Linked DNA regions of Homo sapiens: regions 1, 2, 3, 4 and 6 are each reported to be linked to region 5. The links are microRNA targets in miRTarBase. Many come from high-throughput screens and were not tested one by one. Region 5 holds a microRNA gene; each other region holds the end of a gene's coding sequence.
What was found. Region 5 holds the annotated microRNA hsa-miR-124-3p (UAAGGCACGCGGUGAAUGCCAA, at 1,349-1,370, shown strand). A microRNA usually pairs through its seed, bases 2 to 8, with sites in the 3' UTR of a target mRNA and lowers its output. Matches are read on the target gene's strand: a 7mer-m8 pairs with bases 2 to 8, a 7mer-A1 pairs with bases 2 to 7 and ends in A, and an 8mer does both.

Region 1 (5,087 bases), not on the chromosome of region 5:
GGACAAGTTTATTACAAGAAAATTTAATCCTTTCATCTGTAAGTGGAATTAACAGTCTCCATGTCATGGGGGCTTCGTAAAGGTTCATTGAGCCACTATGTATCTCACTGTGTACCTGGCACAGTGCTCGGCACTTAGTCACTGGCAGCTGTTGTAACTGCCACCTACATGACTAGAACCTTTCCGTAGCATATTGTCAAATCTACATTTTAAGTCTCTACAATCTGGTCCTGCCTTTATGTCCTCAGAACCCTTTCCTGTGACTTCATGCTCTGTTGATACTGTCACCCAGGCTGGAGTGCAGTGGCACAATCACAGCTCACTGCAGCCTTGACACACTGGGCTTAAGGGATCCTCCTGCCTCAGCCTCCCAAGTAGCTGAGACCACATGTGTGTACCACCATGCCTGGATGATTTTTTTTATTTTCTGTAGAGACATAGTCTTGCTAGGTTGCCCAGGCTGGTCTCAAACTCCTGGGCTCAAGTGATCCTCCCACCTTGGCCTCCGAATGTTAGGATTACAGGCGTGAGCCAGCACAGCTGGCCTTCTGTTGACTCTGTAAGTTCTTTGGTGGTTTTGCCCCTAGTTTTATCCCATCTGGTATCTGGTTTACAGCAGCTATTTCAAACACCTCAGTTAATTGTGGTGAGAATTTTGTAAGATTCGGCAGGGTAGGGAGGATGGGGACAGGTTCTTGGGGTGCATGAATGAGTCCTGCTTTCTCAGCCTGCTGGCGGTTTTCCTTAATCTCTCTCTTGCTTTGATCTCTCACTTCTTCCACATTCCTGGGCACCCACCCACATCCCTTACCCCAGACACTTGCTTCCTACCTAGATGCTACCTTGGTAGGGAGGTGCAGCCTTGTCGCTGAAATGGAGGTAATGTGGGCCTGGGATTTGTGTCTTTTTCAGAACAGTGCAACCCTGAAACTCGTCCTGTTGAGAAAAAAATAAGATCAGCTCTTCCTACCAAAACCGTAAAGCCTGTGGAAAACAAAGGTGGGTTGGTTGACTTCAAACAAATCTACAAGGGACTTCACATAGAATAAGTCGAAGGAAAAGGGGAGAGTGGGGCTGGTCAGGGAATCCAGAACAATAGCTTCATTGGGAAGGAACAGCTTCCTTAGCCTTGAGCATCAGGAGTGGGGCCATGTCATCATGGGTGATATTGAGGCAACAGCCTGAAAGCAGTATTCAGGAGAAGAAAAATGGGCAGAAGACAGAGATGAGAAAGGCCATGGCTGTGGTTTGGGGGTTTGCGGTGGGCCCTGCTGGCAGGAGCCTTCTCTAGCCCATAGCTGCTGGTCTCCCTCCATGAATCTGGCTGGGACTGTCAGTTCACCTGAACTCAGCCCAGGCAGGAGGCTTTCTTTGTCCTAGATCATCTCGCTGCTGCTGGGGGTTCAGAGCTCACAGCAGTAGTGGGCTGTCAACCCATCCGTCCAGCCATCTAAACGTTCTTTAATACCTCCTGGGTGTCAAGCACCATGCCAGGCTCTGAAAGCAGCCCCTCTGGTGCCACCAAAGAGGTATTGAACATTCACTCCAAAGGCATGGCCCATTTTTGCCCTTTGAGAAATTTCCAGGTTGGGTTCAGGCAATGCCAGCAGTTTCTGCCCATGCTGAAAGCACAGGAGATTCTACTTGGCTGGTTTTTACAGAGCATCCAGTTAATTGGCCCATCACAGGGTTGGAGCCATGTTGAGGTGGGGATGGGTATTAAGTTATTAGACAACCGGGGTCTAAGCCTAAAGACCACAGGACCACATATACAGTAAGGATGTGAACACTAGAGTGCATTTGTTAAAATCACCAATTCTTTCACTTAGCCTCCCTCTTCTAAAAAAGGAGTGTTAGTATAGTCACAGACTCCGGAGAAGAGGATTTTTGTCTGTACCTGCTTGAATACCCCTATCACTATCACATGTGCGTGCACACATTTTTATCCTGTTCAAGTAGTGGTTAAAATCTGGTGCCCAGGCCTCCTTTTTAGCCATGAGCCATTGACTGTTTTGTATTCCTTAGATGATGATGACTCTATAGCTGATTTTCTCAATAGTGATGAGGAAGAAGACAGAGTTTCTTTGCAGAATTTAAAGAATTTAGGTAAGTCTGTGCTATGCTTGTCAATCGTTGAGATACATTTACTGTGTTGTAAGGATTGTGATTTTTTAAAAAGTTTTTAATTTCTTGAATAAGTATGGCATGTAGGGCTCTTACTATCTAGCCACATAATCTGTAAACATACAGGGTTTCACACCTCCCAGCCTGCCCACACCATTCCTTCTGCCTGGAATCCTGCTGGTCTTGTGGGTTGGCAAAATTCTGCTCCTCCTTCAAGCCTTGGTTCAAGTTTTCTTCACTCAGCTAAGCTTTTCTTGACCTTTTGTGTCTCTTTCAGAATTAGGCACTTTTTTGGTTTCCCATAGCAACTTGGACTTAATAGTAATAAATCACTGTTACATTTCATGGTAATTTGTCTCTCACATACCGATTTGTACAGCAGGGACCTGTATTCCCAGATCCCCAGTGCTCAGCTCACAGTCCAGCCCTTAACACAAACTGGTTATCACATGATTTGATTTAGGGGGAAACAGGTGTTGCCATTTTTGTAGCACTGCTTATTCAGTCCTTACAACATTCTGTTACATGTGCATGGGGTCTGTTAATTTCATTCTTCCCATTTCACAGAATCATGTTAAAAGGTTATGTTTTGCACTTAGTCTCATGGTAATGATTAGTTAGACTGAGTTTGGAGATGAGCTAGTAATAGGTGTGAAAAATTTTACAGACTGTGAAGTACCATGCAGGTATTATTGTTGGTTCCCTGCTACTGGTGCTGCTGCATGCCAAATGGCATGCTTAGACATCATTCAGATTATTTCGTATAGCCGTCTTCACCACTGGCAACTTTTATGGCTAGAAAGAAAGAAAACATGCCAGCAGCTTAATGCTACTATTTGCTTTGTGATTGTGCTGATAAAGCATTTTTTTCTTAGCTGAAGTGGCACGAAGTTACAATATTTACAAAGATACCAAGAACTGGTATCTGTTACTGCATTTAATGCGGAAATAGTTTGATATGCTGGTCTTACCTTTCATTTTATAGAGGTGGGGTCTCGCCATGTTGCACAGGCTGGTCTTGAACTCCTGAGCTCAAGCAATCTGCCCACCTTGACCTCCCCAGTTGCTGGTATTACAGGCATGAGCCACCACACCTTGCTGATAGTTTTATTACACTTGAAATAGCTCTTCACTTTTCAGCCATCTCCATGTGTTTCCACTTGAACTCAGACTGGCTTTTTTTCTTGTTAATTTTTAGGGGAATCTGCAACATTAAGAAGCTTATTGCTCAATCCACACCTCAGGCAGTTGATGGTCAACCTCGATCAGGGAGAAGACAAAGCAAAGCTCATGAGAGCTTACATGCAAGAGCCTTTGTTTGTGGAGTTTGCAGACTGCTGTTTAGGAATTGTGGAGCCATCCCAGAATGAGGAGTCTTAAGATGGATTATTGTGCTGCTTGCTCAAGCGTGTGCTTGACTCCTGGAACCTGCCTGCTCCCTCTCCCAGACCAGCTAGTTTGGGGCTGGGGAGCTCAGGCAAAAGAGGTTTCCAGGATGCAGATTAGGTCATGCAGGCCTTTACCGGCATTGATGTGGCTCATGTTTCAGGCAGACTTGGGGTCCTTAAGGTGGCAAGTCCTTTATGGAGAGAAAACTTGACATTCAGATGATTGTTTTTAAATGTTTTACTTTTGGTACAGTTGATAGACATCATAAACGATATCAAGCTTACACTTCATATGGAGTTAAACTTGGTCAGTGTTAATAAAATCAAAACGTGATTCTACTGTACATTGCATTATTCATAATTTAATTGTTTGAAATTACATTAAATAAATCAACTAATTAAATACTAAAGTTTTGTTCCTTTTTAAAGGAAATAACCACAAGATTTTTCCCAGCCCAAATTCCAGCGCCAATTTTAGGCCAACTTTGGCTGTTTTCTTCCAAAAGTGCTTATGTGGAATTGGGATCCCCAGTGTAGTGACAGACAGTCATGACTGCTGCTGAGTTTGATCTGTGAAGGTAGTGAAATGTGGCCCTGATGTTTCTTAACCCTGATTTGGTAACTACCAGCCCTGACACCATCAGTGCTTGATGTAGCCTGGAACCCCAGGCCCACTGACGCACTGGGCACGGGGCTCTGGGTCGAAGGCTGGAGCCGTCACTGTTGTTCATGTGCATTTGGAGCACTGTGGGAATAGTCTGGCAGCTGTGTGCTGATTAAATGTCTTTGGCAAGGCAGGGGGCAGGAAAAGGCCTTGTGGAAACAAAGGCACCAAGGATCACCCCAGCCCAGTGAAGGCAGAAGAGGTCACGTGGATCAGCCTGTGTCTTTCCAGCAGAATCTGATTAAAGCCTGTAATGCTGTAGGGTGAAGGTTCAGGGCAGATGTCAGCATACCGCAGTGGAGACTTTCTGCAGTGAAACTTTATCGATCCCTAGAGGGGAGAGAGAGATGCAGCTTTAGCACTAGTTCCTGGGAGTGCCAGGGCCTAACAACCCCACAGAGCAGACGCTAAAAATGCAAGAAGGTATGGACAAGTACTAGTATTGGGGGCCACAGCAGGATTAAAATAGCATTACATCCACTCAGTGTGAGACAGATGAGGAAACCCTAGGAGGAGGCGCTCCCTAAGAGGAATGTCTGTCACATTCCTATGACTGCTTAAAGCCAGAAGGGCAAAACATTTACCCTTCTGTTTAGCAGGCCTGTGTGTTTTCATGGGAGACTTCATCCAGATTAAGGCCTATAGTTATTCCTCTGAATGGAAATTTGGTGTTTCCTTCTGCCTTGTCATTTCACTTACTCCTTGCTGTGACTCCATGCAGTAGGTTGAGTATTAGCCCATTTTATAGACAGGCTCCGAGAAAATGTGTCTTAGCCAAGATCATCCAGTGAATGGGGCAGAACCAGGATCCAGACCCTGGGGTTCTACCTCCCAGTGCAACATACTTTCACCTTTCCTCGGCCACTTTAATTCTATGAGGCCTGGCTTACTGGGGTGACTCACAAAGCCCT
Region 2 (5,087 bases), not on the chromosome of region 5:
CTAATACTCACAATACCCCTGCGGAGTGGATACTCACTATTTTTTTTTTTTTTGGCAGAGTCTTGCTCTGTTGCCCAGACTGGAGTGCAGTGGCATGATCTTGGCTCACTGCAACCTCCACCTCCTGGGTTCAAGTGATTCTCATGCCTCAGCCTTCCAAGTAGCTGGGATTACAGGTGCGTGCCACCACGCCTGGCTAATTTTTGTATTTTTAGTAGAGATGGGGTTTCACCTTGTTGGCCAGGCTGGTCTCGAACTCCCGACTTCAGGTGATCCGCCCGCCTCGGCCTCCCAAAGTGCTGGGATTACAGGCGTGCTCGCCACTGCACACAGCCGGGTACTCACTTTATACAGCCATCCTGTGGGGTGGGCACTACTATTTATTCCCATTTTACAGATCAAAAAACTAAAGCGCCAAGAGTTAGGATAACGGTTGCTAAAATTTATTTTATTTTATTTTATTTTGTTGCAGACTACCACAATTACTACTTGAGACTGTCACTATGACAGTTATTACTGTTACTACTTGAGGCCGTCATTACAGCAGTTACTACTGTTACTGCCTGAGACTTCATTACAGGACTGAACGAGGGGACGAATGTAGAAATGAAAACTTAAGACAAAAGAAACTGTTGTAAAGGAAAGGGCCAGGGGAAGAAGAAGAGAACTCCCTGCTTCTAGTGAGCAAAGGCAGTCCCTGAGCTTCCACAGCCCTTCCTATTTATTGGGTAGAATGAGCAGGGAGGAGGAGGTAATGACTGGTTAGCTGGTTGATTGATCACAGATTCATATTGTTACTAACAGGTTTCAATTAGGCCTAATCACAAGAAACACTATGCTTGGAGCGTGACTGCCCTCAGCATTCCTTCTGGATGGCAGAAACAGTTTGTCAGTTTGCCAACATTCTGCATTTATGAGAAATAGTCTGCTGCTTACTCATATAGCTTCCAGTGGTATACTGAGTTGATCATGACCCTCAATCTTTCGGCCTCCAATATTTATTTATTTATTTATTTATTTATTTAATGAGACAGAGTCTTGCTCTGTCCACCAGGCTGGAGTGCAGTGGTGCGATCTCGGCTCACTACAACCTCTGTCTCCCCGGTTCAAGCAATTCTCGTGCCTCAGCCTCCTGAGTAGCTGGGATTACAGGTGTGTGCTATCACACCCAGTTAATTTTTGTATTTTTAGTAGAGACGGGGTTTTGATGTGTTGGCCAGGCTGGTCTCGAACTCCTGACCTCAAGTGATCTGCCCGTCTTGGCCTCCCAAAGTGCTGGGATTACAGGTGTGAGCCACCGCGCCCGGCCCTAAGTTTTTTTGTAAATCACGTAACACTTTCAACAATCCTCTGTGTTGAGTATTGCCATTATCCCCATTTTAAAGAAGGGGAAACTGAGGCACAAGGAGGTTAAGTACTTTGCCTAAGATGACAGCACTAGGAAATAGCAGAGCCAGGATGCACACCTGGGCAGGTTGGCTGAGCCCACTCACTCTACCACTGCACAGTGGCGGCTCAGCTGTGAGGTCATGGGCCTGAGTCCCAGCTCCACGACTCCAGGGTAACTTGTTAATCACTCTGGGTCTCAGTTTACTCATCTCTAAACAGGGAGTATTAGTGGCACTTTCCTTTAGGAATGTCCCAAGGATGACGTGCAGTGGTGTGGACAGAGTGCGTGGCAGAGAGAGCCTTATGTATGGGAGTCCCTCGGTGCACATTCCTCATTCTTGTCCGTGTTCTCCCTGTTTTGGGGGATGTTATCAGAATTTTGCCTGGAAATGTGTTTAGGGTTTATCCTTGCAGAACCAGACCCATGGAAATTCTCAATCTGTGAGAGACCAACAGCCATTCTCAAGAGTCAGATAAACTCAGGTTGGACTAGCATCCCACCCCAGCTGCAGACCAGCTTTTAGACAGCTCGCTTTCCCGGGTGTTTCCTTATCCCTGAGCTGGAGTTAGTTATATTTGCCATGCAGGGGCTCTGTGAAGGTTACATGGCTCAAACTCAGCATGTGATTCTCAAACTAAGGTTTCTGGAGGGGGTGATACCTGAGATAAGTGTTGGGGGCTGGGCAGCAGGGGCCTCTGTGACCAGCAACCGTACCTGGGGTGGGTAATTTACAAACACTGTGTCTGGGAATTGCCCTCATTCTCAGAACCCTCCTGCCCTTCCTTGTCCTGCATCTCCCAGGCTCCCCTCTCTTCCACCTTCCCAGCAGGTTCGACTCATGGGAGGCATAACTGGAAACTGGGGGATAGCAGCAGGCAGAAGCCAGGGCAGGTCTCCCCACCTCCATCTACTTTTTGTTAGGTCTGCGAGGCTGTGTCTCCTTAGCGGCTGCAGCTCCCAGCAGACAGCCTTGCCAGGTCCTCTTCCTCTGCCTGCTGGTGCCAGCTCTGGGCTCTGCCCTCCCTCTGCCCCTCCGCCCCGAGGGCTGGTCTGGTGTTGAATTTCTCCTCTTGCATCACACGGTCCCCTACTTGGCCTCTCAGATGGGTGACTAAGTCCTCTCATTAAATTCCTTTTGTTTTATTATGTTGAGTGAAAGACGTCATTCATTATAGAGTACCTGCTGTATGGTTGTATTAATGAGAAGTTCAAGAACACGAAAGCTCATCTATGGTGATAGAAATCAGAGCAGTGGTTGCCTTGGGGAGCAGGGGGATAACTGGAACAGAGCCAGAGGGAACTCCCTGAGATGATGAAAATGTTTTATACCTTGATTGAGGAGTTGGTTACATGAGCGTGTACGTTTATGAAGACTCGTTAAACCATATGCTTAAAATCTGTATATTTAACTATGGGTAAATTATACCTTAATAAAATTAGTTTAATAAGAAGAAATCCCTGTTTAAATACCAAGAGTGTTTTCTAATTTCCTGCTTGGATCCTAATGGAAATACAGTTTTACTTTTTAAACAAACACAGGTAGACCATGGAGGAAAATGTAAAATATATGTATTTGGTGTTGGGTGTTTTTTTTTGTTTTTGTTTTTTGTTTTGTTTTGTTTGTAAACAATAAAACATGAGACTTCGAACAATTTCACCCTTGGGTTAGTTGATTTCAGGCTATGCTCCCCAGTCCCTGGGAGGCAGCCTTCATTCTCCCTGCTCTTCTCTGGTCAAAAACGCTGGGAAGCACTGGTCTGTATAAAGTGCTAGTGCCTAGCACATAGCAGGCGCTCAAGCAATGTTAATTATTGGCTGGGCGCAGTAGCTCACGCCTGTAATCCCAGCACTTTGGGAGGCCGAGGCGGCGGGCGGATCACTTGAGGTCAGGAGTTCGAGACCAGCCTGACCATCATGGCTAAACCCCATCTCTACTAAAAATATATTTAAAAAAAAAAAAAAAGCCGAGCATGGTGGCATGCGCCTATAATCCCAGCTACTCAGGAGTCTTGAGGCAGGAGAATCACTTGAACCCGGGAGGCTGCAGTGAGTCGAGATCGTGCTATTGTACTCCAGCTCCAGCCTGGGCAACAAGAGCAAAACTCCATCTCAAAAAAATAAATAAATAAAAAAGTTAATTATTATTAATATGAATTGGGTTTCTTGGATCACTTGAAGGCCTGTCTTCTGGCTTTCTTTAAGACCATGTGATTTCACCTTGTGAGGTTCACAGAGAACTCTGCCCCTGAATTCTGCCCCGGATAATGGGAGGGCTTTCTCAGAAAACACAGGCCTGACACACAAGATCACGCATAGGCTTGTATTCAGGAACAATTTTACAAACTCCAGAAAAGGCAGCAGGAGATCCAGAATCTCTGTGTGCCTTCTCTTCATCCTACCCCCAGAAAAATGGCCAGTCCAGCCCAGCACCTGCTGCAGCCTCAATATTAAGGGACTGCTTGTCCCATCTCTTGCCCAGGGGAAGTCGGAGAGAAAGCTCGCCCGTGTGCATGTTTGATATAGGCTGTGTGTGTAGGCAGGGAGTGGGCTAGAGGACCCTGGACACCTTGGCCAGCCTCCTAGGCAGTGAGTTAGAGGAAAGGGGACTAGGTCTTGCACCTCTGCCATACCTCGGGATCCAGACAGACCAGGCAGCGTGTTAATATTGGTGTTCTGCATGGTGGACCCAAGCTAAAGTGTTGCCTGCAGCCAAGGGCCTGGGCACGGACCATCTTCCATCAGCCCAGGGCCCAGGCACAGGGCCACCAGCTGGGGATGGTGGACACCGTGTCCCCATTCCCAGCCCGGCTCTAGAAGGCACTGTTTTGTGGACTGCGACCCCTGGAGGGTGGGCAGGGCCTGGACAGGCACAGGCGGCGCTGGGTCTCCAGTCGGCAGAAGCGGTTCTGGTTGGACACCCGGGTGGCCATGCCCAGCCCACAGGTGGTCGAGCAGGGTCCCCAGGCCGTGCTCCATTCTGGGCAGGGGACACCAGGGGGCAGGGAAGAGACAAGGCCAGAAAACTGGGGTCCTAGGGGGGAAAGAACAAGAGTTAGCACTGAGCAGCCAGGGCTCAGCAGCTCAATCAACCCACCTGCCAGCGGCCACGGCAATCTTGGTCAAATGGCTCAGCCTCTCTGCATCTCAGTTTCTTGTTATGTAAATTTCTTAACAGTGGATGGCATTGAATAAAATAATGGGCATGAAGTGCCTAGCACAGTACCTGGTACTTGTAAGATTTCCATAAATATTAGTTATTTGGCAACCAGAGTGTGTTGGTCACGATGGTCCCTCAGTGAACCATGGTTTTCTCGTCTCTTTGGATAAACAGCATTTTACAGGCAGGGGGTGCCCAGCCTGTGTGGAGTGGTGCTTTGGCCCAGTGGCAAGGATGCTAAAGATTCCAGGATTCTTGTGCCAGGAACAAGATGGCAGGTTCACCATGGTCTAGCTTTTTCTCTGCTCCAAGTCTCCCTCTGTGAGTATTTTGGTGTCCTTCCTTCTAGTCTTACACTAGAAGTCCTCAACTAGGGTAATTTTGCCTCCCAGGAAAGGTTTGGCAATATCTGGAGACAGTTTTGGTGATCACAACTGGGGGGATGCTACTGGTATCTAGTGAGTAGAAGTCAGGAATGCTGCTAAGCACCCTGCAGTGCACAGGAAAACCCCCCCAACAAATAATTACTTGCCCCAATTG
Region 3 (5,087 bases), not on the chromosome of region 5:
CCGGAATCTGCGCTCACAGAAAGACATCTGTAGATATTCCAAGACAGCTGTGAAAACCAGAGTGTGCAGAAAGGATTTTCCAGAATCCAGTCTTAAGCTAGTCAGCTCCACTCTATTTGGGAACACAAAGCCCAGGAAGGAGAAAACAGAGATGTCCCCCAGGGAGCACATCAAAGGCAAAGAGACCACCCCCTCTAGCCTAGCAGTGACCCAGACCATGGCCACCAAAGCTCCCGAGTGTGTGGAGGACCCAGATATGGCAAACCAGAGGAAGACTGCCCTGGAGTTCTGTGGAGAGACTTGGAGCTCTCTCTGCACATTCTTCCTCAGCATAGTGCAGGACACGTCATGCTAATGAGGTCAAAAGAGAACGGGTTCCCTTAAGAGATGTCATGTCGTAAGTCCCTCTGTATACTTTAAAGCTCTCTACAGTCCCCCCAAAATATGAACTTTTGTGCTTAGTGAGTGCAACGAAATATTTAAACAAGTTTTGTATTTTTTGCTTTTGTGTTTTGGAATTTGCCTTATTTTTCTTGGATGCGATGTTCAGAGGCTGTTTCCTGCAGCATGTATTTCCATGGCCCACACAGCTATGTGTTTGAGCAGCGAAGAGTCTTTGAGCTGAATGAGCCAGAGTGATAATTTCAGTGCAACGAACTTTCTGCTGAATTAATGGTAATAAAACTCTGGGTGTTTTTCAGAAATACATTCAAACATTGCTTGGTTTTCTCTGTGTCTGGTCCCAAATAAACTCATTAAGTAGTCCCCATATATCAATGGAAAAACAATCTAAACAGGAACTTCCAGTTCCCCACCCTTCGCAAGTTATCTCTTTCTGGAATCCTTCTTTATAATTGTATCCATTGGTCAGTGGTGTTTGGTGTTTATTGAAGTATAATAACTAGGATCCCTGTTTTCAGGTGGGACACCTGGTATATAATGTGATTAAATCATTTGTCAGGGACTCATAGATGGTAAGAGGGCCGGTAGGATTGGAACCCAGGAGCTCTGACAGCTGAGTCTACAGGGTTGAGGAACCTCCGCTACTGATTCATGTCAGAGCTGCCCATTCCCTCCCCCACCCGAAAGACCCCGGCCTTGCAAAGCTCAATTCTGGAGAAGAAATGAGTTTCATTCCTTCATTCTTCATTCTTGGAGAAGAAAGGCCTAGTTAAGTACAGTGGCCCAAGATAAGGGCTATAAAGGAAGGGGGAGAGGGCTACAAGGAAAACCAGAGAGAGAAGGCAGAAACTGCTGTAAGATCTGGGCTTGAGTGTAACAGGGGAGGGAATAGTGGAGCTGGATTTTGGAAAGAGTATCTGTGGGAATAAAATGGGGCAAAGTGGAGGCACTTTAGGCATTTGATAACATGAATGAAAGTGAATAGATGGGAAGTTTCAGATTCTGGGAGAGGTCAGGTGTCTGGGATCGGATGGGATGCAGCGATGAGACTGCCATTATTCATTTATATGTTAGTATGAAGGATCTGAAAGTTGTATTTTAAGAGTGGGGGAGAGAGGATGAACTGTCTCCAATGCCTTGTCACAATTCCACAACCAGGGAAAGGAGGAGCAGAAGCTGACGAAAGCACTGTTCTTTAGCATGTCTGATGGTGGCAGGGAGGAATGGCAGGTGGGGGGGAAGGAAAGCCTTTTACATTCACCAACCTACTGGGATGCACACTGAGGACGTCAGAGGCCAATCCACAGTGCCACAGCCTCAGAGTGACATTTGGATGTCATCATGATCATCAATAAAAAGAGCACTTATCTCTTACCTGCTATGAGCAAGCACTGTTCCAAGTTTTCCCATGGATAGTGGATTTATTCATTCACTCACTCACTCAACACATAACTTACAGAGCACTGACTCACTCCAGGTTGTGTTCCAGGTGCCAGAGATACAGCAATGGATGTACAAGAGACGAGTGTTCTGCCCTCATGGAACAGTGGGAAAAGTGATGATGAGCTCATGATACATGATACACGATAGAGAAGACTATTAAAGCAAGGGAAGGGGATAAAGTGATCGAGGGTAATGAGCTTTAGATGGGGTGGAGAGGAAAAGCCTCTCTGTGGTGGTTACTTTTGAGCTTAGACCTAAAAAGAGGAATCTCTTTTTAGCCAGGGAACTCTCCTGGGTAAGCATGTTCCAAACAGAGGGACCAGTCAGAACATATGCCCTGAAATCATGGTTAATCTATTTATTCAATCCTATTTGTCCCTTCTTTTTGCCAGGAACTCTACCATAGGTGAGAAATAGCAATGAAGGAAAGAGAAAAAAGAAATCCCTGTCTTCATGGCACTTCCATTCCCATGACAGGGATCATGCTTGGCATGTTAGAGAAATGTCCAAGAGGGTGGGGTCATTGTAGGATGGGGCCTGGGGCCTGACCTGTGAACCTTACCACCAACTCCAAGAGCACTGAAGCAACATTCCAGACCCTCCCCAAGCTCCTTCAAGCCACAGCAAAGAAAGGATATTTTCCCTTAAGGTCTACACAGGTTCTCAGCCCTGTGGCCCCCTCCTCCACATATGTAACATAGCCCTGAGATAGAAAAAGAATAATAATCTCCTCCAGGAGTCACTCAACAGTCATCAGGTTTGTTATGGGTTGGCAAGAACATTGGAGAACAGACCCAAAACCTCCTTAAACTCCTCCAGGCCCGCAGTTGCTGGTTTGAGTTCACTCCTGGCCTCTGGTCACTGGCAGAACTGGAAGGAGTTTTGCCTCTACCATGGAAGAGTGACCTGGATCTCAGCACAAAGTTTGCTTCTGCTGATAGATAACCAGTCTCAGGGCCAATTATTTAATCTTCTGAGCAGAAATGAGCTCATCTTGACAATGGAATCATGAAACCCACCCATTATTAAGGGTCCTGAAACACTGACATTGGTCAATATCTCTGAATCTCTTAATACTATGCCAATAGTTAGATAATAGTTGTTCAACACCACTGACCACTTAAAGTCCACAGCAGGAGACTGAATTGTAGAGGGAAGTCAAAATTCCCAGTGAAAACTCTCTAACTGTGGAAGGTTTTTGGTTTTGTTTATTTGTGTCTGTAGTACAAGTGGCCAGGAGCCACCATTATGGATCACCCACTGTGTGCCAGTGGTTTTGCTCCATTGTCTCGTGAATCCCCCACAACTCCATCTGGTAGGAGTCTCACCTTCATTTTCTAGATGAGGAAAGTGAGGCTGAGAGAAGCCGAGGAACCTTCCCAGGGTTATGAAGTTATTAAATGGCAGAGCCTATAATGGGAATCCCTGGCCTGGAGGTCCCAAGCCCTTTCTGCCTCTGAAGTGCATGATTTTCTTCACTCAGTGATAGAAGAGTGACATTTATGGTCTCTGGATGTAGGCCAAACTTGACAATGAACAATATCCATCAGTCCATTCCACATATATATCTTCTTCCTGTCCTTACAGAGAGAAAGTTCTAGAAGTGAACACTTCCATTGCACTCAGCCTCCGATCATAGTCATATGCTGAGGGGATGTTTTAAGAACACAGTAAAAAGAAATATGTAAATAGAGGCTCCACAGATTTACATTGACTTTCTTTTTTTACCTTTTTTCTTTTTCTTTTCCTCTTTTTTTTTTGAGACGGAGTTTCGCTCTCGTCACCCAGGCTGGAGTGCAGTGGCATGATCTCAGCTCACTGCAACCTCTGCCTCCCAGGTTCAATCGATTCTCCTCTCTCAGCCTCCCGAATAGCTGGGATTACAGGCACCTGCCACCACGCGCAGCTAATTTTTGTATTTTTAGTAGAGACAGGGTTTCAACATGTTGGCCAGGCTGGTCTTTAACTCTTGACCTCAGGTGATCCACCCGTATTGGCCTCCCAGAGTGCTGGGATTACAGGCATGAGCCACCGTGCCCGGCTACATTGACTTCTATTCACCTTAGTGCTACATATTTTCTCCCTGAGAACTTTCTGGATATGAAGTAGAGAAGCCAACTTTCTCTGTGTGTGTGGTCTTTAAGATATGACTTGTTTTGACAGCAAAAGATGGAAATTTTTCGGTAGGTAAGATGTGCTGAAGATTGGCATGTCTGTACCCCCTAAAGCCACTCAGAAGTGGGAATGTCTCTCTTTCCTTATAAAACCACATCTCGGCAGAAAGAGGGTCTCTTCCTTCGGGCACCCCAGCTCTGTGTGGTAACTCACAGTCACACCAGTGCTGACTTGAATCTCTGGAATCCAACAGATCTCACCTAGCCTCCTTCCCCAGCCTCTCTCCGAAGTTGTTTTTGGCAGAAATGGCAGGAATGCCAAAGTGTTTGGGGCTGAAAGCTTTCAAGCAGATATGACACCAGCCATCCTCTGATGTGTTGGTTTGCATAATGTGCTGTGTACAATGCTCACCATTTCATGCAGCAATATCCAAGAAAATCTTTTTGAGACTCCCTCTGAAGAATGGGAGGGATGGGGAGAAGATTCTAGAAGAAGGCTGGCTTGGGACCTGGAGCGCTTGAGGTGAGCTCTCCAGGGGGAGTTTCCATAAAGTAGTTGAAAATGTGTGATATGGTTTGGCTGTGTCCCCACCCAAATCTTATCTTGAATTGTAGCTCCCATAATTCCCACACATCATGAGAGGGACCCAGTGGGAGGTAATTGAATCATGAGGGGCAGGTGTTTCCCATGCTGTTCTCATGATAGTAAGTCTGATGACATCTCATGATTTCATAAAGGGTAGTTCCCCTCCGCAAGCTCTCTCTTGCCTGCAGTCAAATAAGAGATAACTTTGCTCCTCATTTGCCTTCTGCCATGATTGGGAGCCCTCCCTAGCTATGTGGAACTGTGATTCCATTAGATTTCTTTCCTTTATAAATTACCCAGCCTCAGGTATATCTTTATTAGCAGCAAGAGAACAGACTAATACAATGTAGGTAATAACAGCAGAAATGAAATCTGTCTTGTCCACCATCATAGCCCTGGTGCTCAGTGCATGCCCAGCACACAGTGGATCCTCCATAAATATTGGTTGAGTATATGAAAGAGAAGGAGAGAAATCACTGCAGGGGCAATGATTACGGGCTCCAGAGTAAAAGAAAAGTGACCTGTAACAAGTTATTTCATCT
Region 4 (5,087 bases), not on the chromosome of region 5:
ATTCCCCTTGGCTGGGTGCTCCATCCGCTGCTCCTGGCCCAGACCTGTATTCCCAGATAGCCTCCACTCATGGCTGCATCACTTGCCCATGCCACCCATCTCCCCATCTTTTCTCATTTTCTTGCTTGAAATATTCTTATTTGTACACATGTATGTTGTCCCCCTACTCAAATGTAAATGCCAGAAAGGCAGGGGCCTTGACATCTTCTGTCCCATGGGGCCTAGGGCTGGGCCTGACACGGACTCTCCGCAAGTGCTTGCAGAACAAGGTAATGTCCAACCATGCTGGTGGGGAAAGACTGAATACGTTACGATGCAGCCCCACCGTGGAGTCTGTGGAACTATGGCAGAATATGGAATGGTAGGGAAAGGCAATCATCAAATGATGCTAAGTTGGGAAAATGTTACAAAATATTAACATGATTTTTTTTGTATAAGAAAAAAATCTATATATTGTATAGAAGGAGAGAGACCAAATGTTAAAAACAGGTGTCTCAGGATGGGGGAATTACCGAGGACTTCTTTTCCTTTTTGTGTATCTAGCCAGTATTTCTTAAACTTACCACAATAAACACATATTGCTTTTGAAACAAGAAAAAAAAATCAGTAAAACCTATTTTTTTGAAAAGGAAGAGGATAAATGGCCAGGCAGCAGAACATACGACTTGCCCCAGGATATCATGCTGCCAGGAAGGAGAAACACCAGCATCACCATTCAGTCCAGCCCGCACCAGTGCCACCCACAGCCACTGACCCCTGGGCCCATGACAGCATCGCCCTTGGGCCTTCCTCTGCAATTCTGGTGGTGTGGAAGGAGTGGCCAGCATGGCTCCAGCAAGGAGGGATGTCCTTGGCCTCCTTGTTCCAGCCACAGGGTCGCCGGAGCCCCAGCACCCTCTCCCTTCCTCTCTCCTTAATGCCCACGCCTGCACCTACTGGAGCTTCAGGAGCGGGTGGACAGACCCAACTTGGAGCTAAGGGTTGGGTTCCAGCCCAGTCCCTGCTGAGAGTGACCTAAAGCAAGCTGTGCTGCTCTCTCACCTACAGCAATTGCAACTAAGAGATGAGAACCACCGGAAAGAAGGAGCACCTGCTTGTCAGGGAGCAGAGAGGGACCCTTGACATGCGCGCGCTCCTGCTGCTGAGACTGTACTGTTCAGAAACCTGTCCCTCTCCCCTCTTAAAGCCAGAGGGCTCTCCCTGTCAGTTTGCTATTCTCAAGTGGCGTGGGCCTGCCCCTTGAGAGAGGGAAGAAAAGCGCGTGGTTGTCACGGTGGGAGAGGTACTGCCTAGCAATGGATGGTGGAAGCTGGTGGGCCTGGAAAGTGTTCCTCCACAACGCTGTCCCTCTGCCAGGCACGTGCGATCCAGAGTGGGTTAGACTGGTTCCCGTCACAGGCAGGGTCCTCAGTGGAATGGTGTTTTTGAAAGATGGAGCGTCCGGGCGCCCCCATCTTCTCACAGCACAGAGAAGGGGCTGGCTGGCCCGCCACCGGGAGGCTGGCGCAGAGGGACTCAGCCGTGGCCCCGGAACAGCGGGCCACCGTCAGGAACCGGCGAGTCAGGGTGGGAAGAGGCCCTGGAGTGAGCGAGGCTAGCTTCACTTCCTTCAAACTCTGAAGGCCCACCCCATAAAAAGAAGGGGTAAATTCGTCTGGGGTCTGAACAGCCAGGACCAAGAGCGCTCTCAGGCTGCTAGTTGGAGAAACTGGCTCGGCTCGGGCCTTGCTGGGACTCGGGCTCCCAGGGTCTGCTCGGTCTCTCTCGGGGCACTCGGGTCTTTGCTGGGCCCGGCGCCGGCCCCGCACAGAGAACCGGCTTCAACGGCGCAGTCTCAGCCTCCGGGAGGAAAAAGCTGGGAGTAGGCCTCACTGACACGGCCCCGCCTCGCGGGCTGCGCGCGCACCGGGACCTGCGCGGTGGCGGACGGGGAAGCGCCACGCAAGGCCCCGCCCCGCCCTTCCACAGGAAGGAAACGCGCCCCCGGGCGAGCGCCAGCCCCTCCCTGGAGCGGGATCGCCGCAGCTCTCCTGGCCGCCTCCGGCGCCGTTAGCCCACCATCCCCCGCTAGAGGGCAGCACGGGGCGCTTTCTCCAGGCGCTCGGCGGACCTGGGTACGGGGACCTCATATCAGGCTGCAGAGAAGAGCCTTCAGTCAAAAGGATGGCATGAAAAACGGACTATACTTGTAACATCCAGCTTTTAAAACGTGGTGGAGTCAAATTTATTGCTTCCTCAGGGCTTAAAAAAACCTCTTCTGTAAGTCTGCTTTATCAAACAGAATTTTTTTATCCCCTTGGTTGCTTGAAACTGAGCTATCAAACAAATTAATCATATATTAATGTCCCTCTAAGCCGGAAACCTGGAATTACTTTGAAAAGGTAAAATATTTTTCAACTTTGGTTTTCTGATCTTTTCAGTAGTTGTTTCGATTTGAATTAAACCTCTATAAAATTAGCTTTTACAAGTGAATTTAAAAGCCACGCCATACTTTATACTAAAAGAATAAAGATTTTTATTAAGCATTGTAAGTTGCATTCAATAGCCTTCAGATACACCACACCACAATCCATCGACAGTCAATCAAACCCAACAGCAGTTCATTCTTGCACAATCCATGAGTTAGGGCAAAACTCCCTTCAACTTACAGTAAGATCCTACTTAGCTCTTGCGGGCAGGGGTTGGGGAATTACACCTCATTTCTGATCACTAATGTGATGAAGAGCATCAGAAGTATATGAAAACGATAAGAAGTGATTCTGATTTCAAAGTACATTGTTTGGAAACATTAACAAAAACATCAAAATGATAGAAGTATACCTGCTTCTACTAAATTCTTGATGGGAAAGTTCTCAAGAACAAGCAATTTGTTTCCTGCTACAGAAGGGGGGGGTGGTTTTTTTTTTTTTAAGATCAAAGGGTTTTTTTTCACAGAATTTCATATTTGCTAATATGAAGGCATAAAACAGCAACAAAGAACAATAATGCATACAGCAGTGAATACACCAGGGTAATGTTGATATTCGAAACGGCTAGATAATTTTTGGGGGGCTTTAGAATAAATGCAACAGAGGTCAATAATCACAAAATTTTAAGGTTAGAGCAAGATCAGTCAATGACTAAACAGAGTTAACATCTTTTATAGGACTATTACTGATTATTAGCATTTTTGTTTTGCAAATGGGCACATACTGTTAAGAATGGAAGAAAGGACGATAACATGCATATTAACTACACACTTTAAAAATTATGAACCATGCAGAAGTTTAGCTCAAGTAGTAGTACTAATGGTCTACATCCGATTCAAAACCACATAGTTCATTGATCACAGATGCATGGTATTAGTCACGAAAGTTTCAGAACACATTGTGTTGATTTTGAAAGGTCATTTGCATCTTCTATGATTTCAACTTTATCTCCATTTAACTTGCTTGTAAAGTATGTATGATGTATTGTATATTTAAAATCAGCAGAACGGCAATATTACTCTATAATTTTTTAGTTTTGATAGTTGCACTTTTTTTTTTTAACACAAAAGAACCACATCAACAGTGATGAAATTTAAGAAAGAAAAACTGTGGTTGTGCCTTATTTCTTTCATAATCATAAAAATCAAAGCCTTAAAGAAAGCTTCATTGTGAAACAGTAATGCAAAATCAAATATAATGGCATACATATGGTGCCAAATGCTAAAAATTATATTTTAAGCTATATATACTTAAAGACTGCCAAAATTTGTTTTCTTTATAGTTCAAGAAACACAACTAAAGGCTTTTGTCATAACCAGTTTAAACTTTATGTGTACTTCATTTTAAGTGCGGGAGTCAAATGCTCTTCATTTTCTTTCTCTTTTTTGTTTTATTGTAGCATTTTGACTACAACTGGTTAAAACTAAAAATGTGTTGTTTAAATCTCTGATATCAAAGAGGGATCTGAATTTCCAAAGTCCTCATTTTTCTCTTACGGAAAGGACAAAATGTACATAACTGCAGGCTCTCTTTCTCTCCAGATATTCCTAAATCCTTACCCTTCCAGCATCCTTCACCCTCTATAAAAAATAAGTTTACTCTTCTTTATTTAAGACAGCTGCCTCCAGAGCAGCTTCTCTGCGGCAAGCGCTGTCTGTACTTAGTGCATTTAAATGAGGATTTGTATTGCACGTTTTAGAGTCATTATTCAAGGCACTTTCAGAGTGGCTGGGGGCCCTGGCGTCACCCGTGCTCCCGTTCATCTGGGGAGCCGGCTTCTCCTCGGCCATCACTCCGTTTTCAGCCAGGGACCCGTCTGAAGACATAGCAGAGGACTTCGATTCCCCAGATTTTGACTTAAGTTCTTTGGCCACTTCTTCTGCTGAAGCAGCATAAGGAGGTCTGCCCTGTTTAAAATGAAGGACAACAAATGAGAAGGTGGTTTCTGATAAACAGAAGAGAGAGGATGCCAATTTTGGCCTAATGACACTCTCTGCAGATTCAAGAGCAGAAAATGCCCAGCTGGGTCCTTCTAACCCTGTCTTTGCTTTGACTTTTGGGCGGTAGATGCTCTACCTGTCTCAGTCAGTTCCCTCCATGGCCCCTTCCCTCAACTCCTCTGTAGTTAACACCCTGAAAATGAGGGAGATTCCCCCTTCAGGAGCTCTGTCTAATCCTTTGTATGGCACTAAATTGTTTAAAGTAACAAATGCCCCTCAATAAGTCCTCTCTAAAATTGCGACTGTTCCCACTGCCACAAAACAAACAGGGTCTCCCACATCTGCCTGTGATGTGCAGCAGCACACACACCCCATTTCTACTGGGGAAATACAGTCATTGCTAGGGAACCTTAACAAGAAATCTGCACTGATAATTGCCACGTGTTTGTGAAATAACTCTTCTGAATGGGTCTTCCCCACTCCTCTGAACAGATTTAAAAATAAGCCTCTGAAAAAAATGGTCCTTGAGACTAATCCAGCACATTTTCTGAAAGACATGGCTCTCTGTGAAGGCAGTGAAGACAGATCTTGAATTGCTCCTATCATTAGACCAGGGCTCCTCAACCTTAGCATATGATACGCTGGCTCTGTCCACTCTCCGTGATGGGGCTGTCCCACA
Region 5 (5,000 bases):
TGAGAAATTGATGAGAAATTGACATGTCCGTGCACATGCATGAGGCGGCGACAGGATTTGTGTGTAAACAGTGTGGAGAGGTGGAGGAGGGCATGGGGGTGGGGGCTTAAAATGATGTCTTATTGTCCTTTTGGCTTTAGGGACTCTCATCCTCTGTCTCGCCCCCTTTTTTTGACCCGGGGATCCAGCCGCATTATACACGAGTGACCTTTTAAATCTACGTCCACCCTTTACCTGGTAAAGCCCGCTGACAGTTGGGGGTGGGGTGGGGAGAGTGTAGGGGTGCTCTCTCCCTCTCTCCCTCCCTCCGCCTCTCCTCCCTCCCTCCCCCCTGCACTCCTCTCTCTTCCTCCCTCCCACCTCCCTCGCTCCCGCCCTCCCTGCTGCATTTTGCATGAGCTATCTAGGTCATTAGCATTTTAGCGTATGCAAGACTTGACAAAGCTGATGAGGGGCCAGATGGGCCTCGCTCTTATGGTTTTTTTTTCTTCTTCTTCTTCTTCTTCCTCTCTCTCTCTCTCTCTCTGTCTCTCTCTCTCTCGTCTCTCTTCCTTTCCCCCCTCCACCACTTGGGACCTGAGCGAGAGGACTGCAGCAGGCGAGTTCCGGAAGGCTGAATCCCCAGGTCCCAGCCCCGGACCGCGGCAACTCGCCCCTGCGGCACGCCCGGCCCGGCTGCGCCCCCACTCAGCGATGGAGGTAAAGAGGCGGCGGCCGCGCGCCCTGCCCCGGCTGCCGCTGCCGAGTCCCCGCTGCTCTCCTTGTCCTTCGCTCTCTTCTTCCTCCTCCTAGTCCCCTTCAGTTTCCTGGGCGAAGCAGAGGGCGACATGGGTGGGTGGGTTGCTGCGCTGGGGCGAGGTGGGGTCGATGTTGTTTTTTCATTGTCTGGAGCTGCAGGGGAGGCGAGGCGCGGGGAAAGGGGCGAGGGGAGCCGGGGTAATTAACACGGGGGAGGCACCCCTCCGTCTCCCACTTCCACCCACACCCCCATCCCTCCACCCCCTCCGCTTTGCAGGAAAAAGCCTGGATGCGAAAGGATGGGGGAGAACAAAGAGCCTTTGGAAGACGTCGCTGTTATCTCATTGTCTGTGTGATTGGGGGAGCTGCGGCGGGGAGGATGCTGTGGTCCCTTCCTCCGGCGTTCCCCACCCCCATCCCTCTCCCCGCTGTCAGTGCGCACGCACACGCGCCGCTTTTTATTTCTTTTTCCTGGTTTTCTTATTCCATCTTCTACCCACCCCTCTTCCTTTCTTTCACCTTTCCTTCCTTCCTTCCTCCTTTCCTTCCTCAGGAGAAAGGCCTCTCTCTCCGTGTTCACAGCGGACCTTGATTTAAATGTCCATACAATTAAGGCACGCGGTGAATGCCAAGAATGGGGCTGGCTGAGCACCGTGGGTCGGCGAGGGCCCGCCAAGGAAGGAGCGACCGACCGAGCCAGGCGCCCTCCGCAGACCTCCGCGCAGCGGCCGCGGGCGCGAGGGGAGGGGTCTGGAGCTCCCTCCGGCTGCCTGTCCCGCACCGGAGCCCGTGGGGTGGGGAGGTGTGCAGCCTGTGACAGACAGGGGCTTAGAGATGCAAACAGACTCAGGGAGAGAAACAGAAGCTGATTCTGTGACAGAAGCAGATCTGTGCAGCACAGATGCGGTGTGCGTGGGGAGGGGGTCGCCTGGGAGCGCATTGCGGAGTGCTTGTGTGTGCAGATTTTTCTCTGGGCTCAGGACTCATTGTATGTGGGTCAACACCTTCCTCCGTGACTGTGTTTTTGTTCTGAGCTGAGTTTTTTGGTTTGCCCTTAAAAAAATAATAATTTGGCATCCAGAGACTGGCAGACTGCCTCAGGGCCTGGACTGCGGATATATTGTGTTCTGCTTGAGGTTTGGGGAGGAGGGCAGGCGGTAGGAAGGGAGAGGGGGAGCTGTTTGTCACACTTTGCTGTAGAGCTGAGAGCACCTGACAAGCTTAAGGAAGTCGTTGGGCTATGTGGACAAGAAGGAGCCAGCTCCCAGCGGGTTCACAAGCTCTATCGGAGTTGAAAGCGTGGTCATGGCTCTAAGGAGCACCTCACGCCCTCCCTGTAGCTGTTATTGCAGTTTCAGGCAGAGATCCAGGAGCTGCAGAGGAAGGGAGAGGCACAATAACCTACATGGACCCAAGGGAGACATGTGTTCCTTTAAAAATGTGAACAGAAGGAAAAACAGAATGTGTGCAACTGGGGGTCTGAGGAAAGACTGTTTTGAAAGAGGCTGTCAGGGAATGGAAAGGGTTAAGCTTTTCATCCTGAAGAACCTGCTTCCCAAATCAGGCCTTCCTCCCATCACTAGACCCTGAGCAGCAGCTGGTCCTAGAGACCCCCCTCGTACTGCGCTGCCACAGTCTCATCCCATTTCCAGCTCTGTATTAACCACCAAGCTGCAGCGGATGGGGCAAGACCTAAGCTCATTAATTTCCAGGTGGAGGAAATGGAGGAGGGGCAGGTCCCTGCAGTAGAGGGAGGAGCAGAGAAAGGAGGCCAAGAGCTGGATCCTTCTGCCCAGGAAGCCTGCTGCATCCCTTCCCCCGAGCATGGCAGAGGCCTGGCTTTGCAAGGCCAAGGCCATAAGGGATGCTTAGGAGATTAATTTGATTCCTGACACAATAATCAAGCCCTAAGAGTCTCCACTGAAGCTTACTGAGGACTTCTTTCCTCTCCAAAGCCTCAGTCTAGCCTGCTAAATAAATTAGTATTCAGTGATGCCTTGGATCAGGGCCCCTCCCCGGCCTCAGTTTCCCCAAATATTTATTAAGTACCTACTGTGTGCAATCCTTGTGTAATTATTAACTCTTAGGCTCTTCATTTGCCCTCCTAAAGCAGTGTTTAGAGTCAGGCAGAGGTTAAGTGTGTTGCACCTCACCTAGATACTTCCAGAACCTTCTCTGGGTCTGCAGAATGTGGCACAACCTGCTTGCCCCCGCAGAGAGAAAGCTGCAGTGCACATCCTGCAGACTGCAGGTGCTGGGCTGCCTCTGGAGTCCCAGAAGGCAAGCTTGGCTGCAGGACAGAAAGGGAGAACAGCTTCTCTCACCCCTGAGCCTTCACAAGCCCTTGTCTATTTGCCGTTGCCTTCAAAATATACCTCCCCCGAAACCAGTAGCTTTCTGAGTCCTGGTGTCCCCTCCGCCCTTTCTGGACAGGTTTGGGAAGAAGAAAGCAGTCAGTGCTGGGCCTTATTGGGGTGTGAAGCGCCTTGCTCTGCCCCTTCTGCTCACTGTGAAGGCCGCTGGATGCTTCTCTTAGGCATGGTTTAAGCCTCCGATTACTAAACCCCTTGCCCCACAAACGTCCACATTGACGAGCCTCTTTTTAGTAACTGCTTCCCCGTAATTCCTTCAGAGGTTGCTGTACCCTTCGCTGATGTGCTGCCCTCCTGTAAAACCTCCAGATGCCTTCCCACGTAATGCCCCTTTCAGATGCTTTAAGCTGAGAGCTTAAACCACAGGTACCATGGCTGACGCCTGCCAGGTTTCTGCTGCAGATAATCTATGATGGGAGGGGCATATTTTTTACTTCATTACTTATGTAAACTCTTGTTCCAGAAAGCTTTAATGTGTGTGGGAGTGTTCTGGGTCTATTAGGTCTGTGCGCATGGGTGTGGGCATTTGCCTGTGTCCACCGGGTGGGTCTCATTATGAAATGTATGTTTATGTAGGGCTTTAATGGCTGAAAATGGCAAAGAGATGAATAGACCACTTGGCCCCATGTGTAATTGCCAGGCCCCTTCTGTGCTCAAATGAGGTGTCCGAGTGAAGGTCAGCCCTTCCCTTCTGTATTTGGGGCCTATTTATGCCACCAGTAATTTTATAAGAAATCTGAATAGTTCTCCCCTTTGAGTGCATTTAACTCTTTAGTATCTTCTCTCTTACCTATTTGAGCCCCTCTAGCTACAGTCTGGCTTAAATGAAAGGGGAATTATATGCTTAAGAAAAAGTAGGACACGGTTGAGGCAGTTTGCTGACTGAATACGCGAAGAAGGACCTGATGGGCTCATATGCACCACTGCCATCACAGTCCCCATCGTGATGCAAGCTTATATGATTCTTGAGGTAACTCTACCAGATACTTCCAGATTTAGAAATGTGTCAAAGGAAAAATTGGTGATACTCTTCTTTCCCCTGCCAGAAACAGCCCAGATCTCCTCTTAAGCGGAAAAGAGATTGACCTTCTAGCAGAGGCAAAGGTAAACTCCTGTAAGTTACTTCTGTTACCAAAGGGAGGGGGGCGGCTTTTGTGAATGTATGAGGAGCTTTTGCCAGAGAGATATTCGGAGGAGGGGTGTGCCCATATGCACACATATATTTTCCCGCATAACCGTATCCAATGCTAGCATTTAGAGGAAGGCATTTAGCCACCAAAAGTCCATCCATCTATGCTGCTTCCACAGAGAAAACATTTTCTCTTTCCTCCTCTTGAACTTACATAATATCCTCCTCCCATTCCAACCTTAGAATGGAGTCTTCTGGGGGCAGCTGCAAAGCGTTCTCCCTAGGACAGATGGAGCCTCCCTTTCCTCATCTACTCTGTGGGTGGTTTCAGGGCCCACGAGTCAACATGAGGAGTTGTGCTGGTGGTATGTGTGTTGGAGGCTGGGCTGGCTGATTCACAGTGACGAGGATGTCAATAATAACAAGAATGAGAATGATGGTACCTAATAAAGACTTTTTTTCCCAAGTCCCATCTACAATTCTTTCATTGGGTGTTTTGCCAAGTCTTTCTCAATCTCATCTCAGCTTTTTTTTTTTTTTTAAAGAAAATGTATTCAATACTTAATTGCATCACAAATGTAGACATAGAAGAAAGGACTTCAAACGGAATTTATGGGAGGCAATGTGTGCGGCTTTTTGCCTTATAGAGCTGTGTAGAAGGTCTGGAATGATCTTCCAGCACCAAATTTAGATGGCCTCAAAAAAAAAAAAAAAAAAAAAAAAATCAGGCCTTATTGAGGGCAAGGAATGTTCCAGGTCAG
Region 6 (5,087 bases), not on the chromosome of region 5:
CCTCCACCTCCCAGGTTCAAGCAATTCTCCTGCCTTAGCCTCCTGTGTAGCTGGGATTACAGGTGCACAACACCACACTCGGCTAATTTTTTTGTATTTTTAGTAGAGACGGGGGGTTTCACCATGTTGGTCAGGTTGGTCTCGAACTCCTGACCTCGTGATCCGCCCACCTCGGCCTCCCAAAGTGCTGGGATTACAGGCATGAGCCACGGCACCTAGCCCAATAAAACTTATTTACAGGCACTGAAATTTGAATTTCGTATCATTTTCATGTGTCATGAGATAGTCGTCTTCTTTTGATTTTTTTTTCCAAACATTTAGAAATAGGAGCTGATGGATTATATGAGAATGGACAATAGGCCAGACTTGGCCCACAGACTATCATTTACCAGCCTTTCATCTAAAGCCTTTCAGGCCACTGAGGAACCATGGATCTTGTTCTAACATAATGGATCTTGTTGTGACATGATGGAAGGTTTTGAGCAAAGGGTTTTGGATATAAATTACATTTTTTAAAGACCATTCAGGCAACTATGTTGAGAATGGATGAAGGGACAAGAGATACCAGCATGGAGAAGTGACTTACTCAGGGCCACAGAAAGAGAGAGAGGGGGTTAGAACCCAACGCAACCTGGCTAGTGGAGATCTTCATCTAACTAGGTGCCGTGAAATCTCTTTATCCATGTCACACTAGACCATTCAGCAAATTGATTTGTCTTCTCTTTCTGTGCTTCAGGAATGGGAAATGAAGAAGACCTAGGAAGAGGATGAGGATTTCATTCCAAAGGAAATACCAGCTTGTCCACCTGAGGAAGAAATGCTTTTTTCACAAGGAGACACCAAGAGAAGACTAGGAAGTAGCCCTCGTTCTCCAGGGCACCCAAAATACCAGCCTTTATTGTCTGCATGATTTTAGGGGATATGGGGAGGGAACAAGTAGAAGGGAAGAGGGAAATGGAGAGCATCCTTATGACTTTACAAAGGGTGGAAATGAGGATGGAGGGATACAGAAGTCTGCACAGCTGTAAAGGTTTTATAGATGTCTTTGCCTTCCCTTCTGAGGAAGGGAAGAAGTAATGAAAGCACATGTGAATAACCCCTTCCATCCCATTCACAGCATCGCACTCCCAGTCCTTAAGGCAAAGGGAGGCAGTGCTGAAGCATTGGTGGTGCAGTGTAAAGAGACAAGACCTGATCATCTGATCACACTTGTGCCAACTTGATTCATATTGGGCATTACTAACAACCCCTGGTCAAGGTAAATAGGTTGAACAATCAATAACATTATCCCTGCCTGCATACATGTGAACAAAAGCTATAGAGGACATGCAAATTCTACAGTCATTCCTCATATGCTTTAGACAGAGTGCAGCTACTGGAATCTTCCAGATTTCAGTGTTTTAAAATCAGAGCTCTGAATACACAAAAGGAAAGAGAAATGGAGCAGCTGACATATTTTAAGCTCACAGTGATACTCAGTGACAGGAGCACAGAGCTCTAATGTCCACAGGATGTTGTAGGGTAGGGTCTCTCAGTAAATCAAGTCCCTTACCTATGTTCTGACACTGAGGCTCTTGGAGCTATGGGTTAGAAATCCAGGAGGCAATATGTCTTTATTCTAATGAAGTCCTCATCTTGCACTCAGAGGCCCACTAGTTTGCCCTTCTATATATTAAGTAAAACCAAGAGAAATTAAGAGGATGATGGCTTCTTTCTGTCACATGGGTGCTAAACCTTTTACAAACACTTGATACTTCTATAGAGGGACCAAGGACCTCAAGTCCTGGGCAGTCTCCTTACTGTGCTACTCACTACTGTCTCAACACTGTAGTGAGTCTGTCTTTAACACATTTCCTTCCAATAAAGATAAAACCACTTAACTCTTAAGTGCCAGTGCTTAGCTCAAGAGGAAAGAAGGAAAATCCCAGAATAACCGTGGCCACTTTGCTATAGGGGTTACATATTTTAACCCACCTAAGGTTTTACAGACTTTAGCCTCACTCAAACTTTATCACCCTCTGAGGTAGCTGGAGACCACAGCAGGAAAAATAACCTGACCAGTAATCACCCACTGATTAGTGGCAGAGCGTAGGACTTAGGGGTTATAAGCCCAGATCCAGATAGGGCTAGGTTTGAGCCATGCCTCTAATGACCAGCTGGGTGACCTTGGGAAAGTCACTTGATTGCTCTGATTCTTGTTTTCCTTATCTGTGAAATGGGACTAACAATTGTTACTTTTCTCCCAAGATTGTTGGGAAGATTTAATAAGATAATATATAGTAGGCATCTTGCATAGTGTCTGAGAAATAAGAAATGCTCAGTCAATAGTGGCTCTCATTAGCCAGGCATGGTGGTACTCGCCTGTAGTCCCAGCTACTCAGGAGGCTGAGGCAGGAGGACCGCTTGAGCCCAGGAGTTTGAGACTGTAGTGCACTATGATCACGCCTGTGAATTGCCACTGCACTCCAGCCTAAGCAAATAGCAAGACCCCATCTATTAAAAAAAAAAAGTGGCTATTATTAGCTATATCAGAAATGTCTGACTCACAAGCCTGTGTTCTTTCCACTGAAGAGGAAATTACTTTTCAGTGTTCTTTTTTAAAACGTGGATCCTGAAATGTCACCTAACTCTCCAACTATGTCTTCAGTGTCTGTCATACTCTTTCTTATGCAGTTATTTTGGGGTTAAGTGTCTTTTCTCACCAACAGATGAACTCTCAGAGGAGTGGCTGGGGGTAATTAATAATTAACATTTATCAAGCACTCACCATATGTCAGGCACTGTGTCAGCCATGGCCAGCTTCACAGGCATGCAACCTGTGCAGTCACACAGGGCCCCATGCTTAGAAGGGCCCTGTTCTTGGTTTAATGCTCTACTATTGCCTTCTTAATCATATTTGAACAAGGAGTTCTGCTTTTCCTTTTGCCCTTTAAATTAGATAGCCAGTCCTGGTGCTAACTAACCACTTTTCTAGGTATTATCCCTTTAGTTTTCACTGAAACCCTGAGATAAGTTATATTGCCCTAGTTTTCACAGTTCAGGAAATGGAAGCTCACAGAGGTCAGGTAACTTGTCCAAGCTCCCATAGTTCTTATATTTACATGCTGGTGGAGCCAGCATGTGAATATAAGAAGTCTGACCCTAGAGCCTTATTCTTAATTTTAAAGCTCTATGTCATCCATATATCTCCCTCCCCTTGTACTGCAACATTCAGAAGCACACTAGCACTTAATAAATAGACGAATGAATGCATGGATGCAAGCAGCAACCTGGTGAACGTTAGGCAGCTAGGAGAAATGTAAGCAAAATGGCTAAGGCACAGATGCCACTTGTTCTTGGTTGTTAAAATGCCTTGTTTAGGCCAGGTATGGTGGCTCATGCCTGTAATCCCAGCACTTTGGGAGGCCGAAGCGGGTGGATCACTTGAGGTCAGGAGTTCAAGACCAGCCTGGCCAACATGGCAAAACCCCATCTCTATCAAAAATACAAAAGTTAGCTGGGCACGGTGGCACATGCCGGTAGTCCCAGCTACTTGGGAGGCTGAGGGAGGAGAATCACTTGAACCCGGGAGGTGGAGGTTGCAGTGAGCCGAGATCGCACCACTGCACTCCAGCCTGGGCAATAGCAAGACTCCATCTCAAAAAAAAAAAAATGCCTTATTTGGTTGTGTTTTTTCAAAGTGTAAGCCACAGGTCTAAGCCCAACACTGCCAAGTGTTCAGTCTGTCAGAATTCTACTGTCACTGTTTCCTTATTGCGGGATCTTGCATAGGTTTACCAACCTTTCTGAGCCTCAATTTTCTCATATGTAAAAGAGAATCATAATACCTCCCTAAACCATATCACCCTTTTCATAAGGCCAAAAAGAAAATATAAGTTATTGGTCATGACACATTTGAGTTGGACCTCGGATTAGATAAAAAGATGAAAATACTCCAGCTCTGTCCTCATGGAACTCAGAGACAAGCAGGAAAGAAAATGTGACCCAAATAACTACAGTACAAATAACCCATGTTATGACAAGATTCAGAGTGCTCAAGGAACACTTCCCATTCCCTTAAAAAAAAAAATTAAGGGACTATCCAGTAACTAAGCTGGCAACTCCAAGTGCCCTGGACCCCAGTCACCAATCCATCCTCTCAGTCTGTCAGCTTTCCATCCTAAATCTCTAAAATTCATCCATATCTTCCTATCTTCACTGACACTATCCAACTTAATTAAGTCATTCAACAAATACTTGAGTACCTACTATACTAGATGTCAGAAATCAGTGGTGAACAAGACAGACACCTCATGAAGCTCACATTCTAGTTGGAGGAAAAAACCTTAACAAGGAAGCAAAAGAAATAAAATACTAAGAAACTAAAAGGGTGCTGGACACAGTTACTTTACAGTGGTTAGGAAGGTCTCTCTCTGTTCTTCCAGGACAGAATATAGCCCCATCTTGCCTGGGCTACTGCAACATATTGCCTTCCCTACCTCTTTTCTTACACCTTGCAATCTGCTTCACACAGCAGTCAAAGTGACTCTTTAAACATGAAAGCCTTTGTCACATGTTCCCTGTCAATCTAAAATAATTTAAAAGGTCAGAATCTAGTTTAAAGAGAGTTTATTCAAGCACAAAGGTTGAGGATGGCCTGCCCAGGAAGCACAGAATGGAAAAATATGTCTGTCTTAAAAAAGATGGAAGTCAGTGTTCCAAAGTGTGAAAGGTTGGGTTCAGTGAGGTTTAACAGAATTTCAACATCTTTCTATGCAAGGCTTAATGCACAGTTACAATGATCTGAGTAGTTAAGGTGGTCTTTTTCCTTCAAGAAAGGTACATTTAACATCACATCCTGCAGATGTAACTGTCATGGGGTCAGTTCAGTTCAGGGCACCATCTAGTCTGAGTTAGGTGCAGGACAATAAAGGAGGCTGTCTATTACAAACATCAGTAATTGAGAGGGAAGAAATCTGGTCTCTGCTCTTTCCTAGTCATTACAGAACAAGAACAATGAGGAAGAGAATTAAGCTATAATTCTAAGAAGCAGAACTACAAAACATGCTACATGGACTCAGACCACAGCCACATCTCTCTCAAAGCTT

Region 1: the mRNA of MYO19 is a reported target of hsa-miR-124-3p. Seed matches in the 3' UTR shown: 7mer-m8 at 4,338-4,344.
Region 2: the mRNA of CCN5 is a reported target of hsa-miR-124-3p. The part of its 3' UTR that is shown has no 7-base or 8-base seed match.
Region 3: miRTarBase lists FGFBP1 as a target of hsa-miR-124-3p. Seed matches in the 3' UTR shown: 7mer-A1 at 521-527.
Region 4: the mRNA of FAM120A is a reported target of hsa-miR-124-3p. The part of its 3' UTR that is shown has no 7-base or 8-base seed match.
Region 6: miRTarBase lists AFAP1L1 as a target of hsa-miR-124-3p. Seed matches in the 3' UTR shown: 7mer-A1 at 3,653-3,659.

What each region holds. Positions count from the first base shown.
Region 1 is chr17:36,491,901-36,496,987 of GRCh38, forward strand. It overlaps MYO19 (myosin XIX), which reads right to left. Exons shown (of 26, transcript NM_001163735.2): 26 at 3,736-4,506. The coding sequence ends at 4,351. It overlaps ZNHIT3 (zinc finger HIT-type containing 3), which reads left to right. Exons shown (of 5, transcript NM_004773.4): 3 at 913-999; 4 at 2,026-2,106; 5 at 3,323-3,922. The coding sequence ends at 3,504. Among named protein-coding and RNA genes, the nearest start is that of ZNHIT3, 7.8 kb to the left of the region's middle.
Region 2 is chr20:44,726,421-44,731,507 of GRCh38, reverse strand. It overlaps CCN5 (cellular communication network factor 5), which reads right to left. Exons shown (of 4, transcript NM_003881.4): 4 at 3,697-4,421. The coding sequence ends at 4,201. The region is part of intron 3 of KCNK15-AS1 (KCNK15 and WISP2 antisense RNA 1); the gene reads left to right. Among named protein-coding and RNA genes, the nearest start is that of CCN5, 14 kb to the right of the region's middle. RefSeq lists an enhancer at 4,274-4,799.
Region 3 is chr4:15,931,196-15,936,282 of GRCh38, reverse strand. It overlaps FGFBP1 (fibroblast growth factor binding protein 1), which reads left to right. Exons shown (of 3, transcript NM_005130.5): 3 at 1-706. The coding sequence ends at 355. Among named protein-coding and RNA genes, the nearest start is that of FGFBP1, 5.0 kb to the left of the region's middle.
Region 4 is chr9:93,563,517-93,568,603 of GRCh38, reverse strand. It overlaps FAM120A (family with sequence similarity 120 member A), which reads right to left. Exons shown (of 18, transcript NM_014612.5): 18 at 2,492-4,375. The coding sequence ends at 4,064. Among named protein-coding and RNA genes, the nearest start is that of PHF2, 11 kb to the left of the region's middle. RefSeq lists a silencer at 1,772-2,191.
Region 5 is chr8:9,899,769-9,904,768 of GRCh38, reverse strand. It overlaps MIR124-1 (microRNA 124-1), which reads left to right and starts at 1,297; the gene lies at 1,297-1,381. It overlaps MIR124-1HG (MIR124-1 host gene), which reads left to right and starts at 1,440. Exons shown (of 3, transcript NR_024281.1): 1 at 1,440-4,080; 2 at 4,157-4,214; 3 at 4,483-4,705. It overlaps LOC124902057 (a long non-coding RNA gene), which reads left to right. Exons shown (of 4, transcript XR_007061170.1): 3 at 141-237; 4 at 582-699.
Region 6 is chr5:149,339,271-149,344,357 of GRCh38, forward strand. AFAP1L1 (actin filament associated protein 1 like 1) reads left to right here. Exons shown (of 19, transcript NM_152406.4): 19 at 737-4,367. The coding sequence ends at 760. Among named protein-coding and RNA genes, the nearest start is that of GRPEL2, 3.7 kb to the right of the region's middle.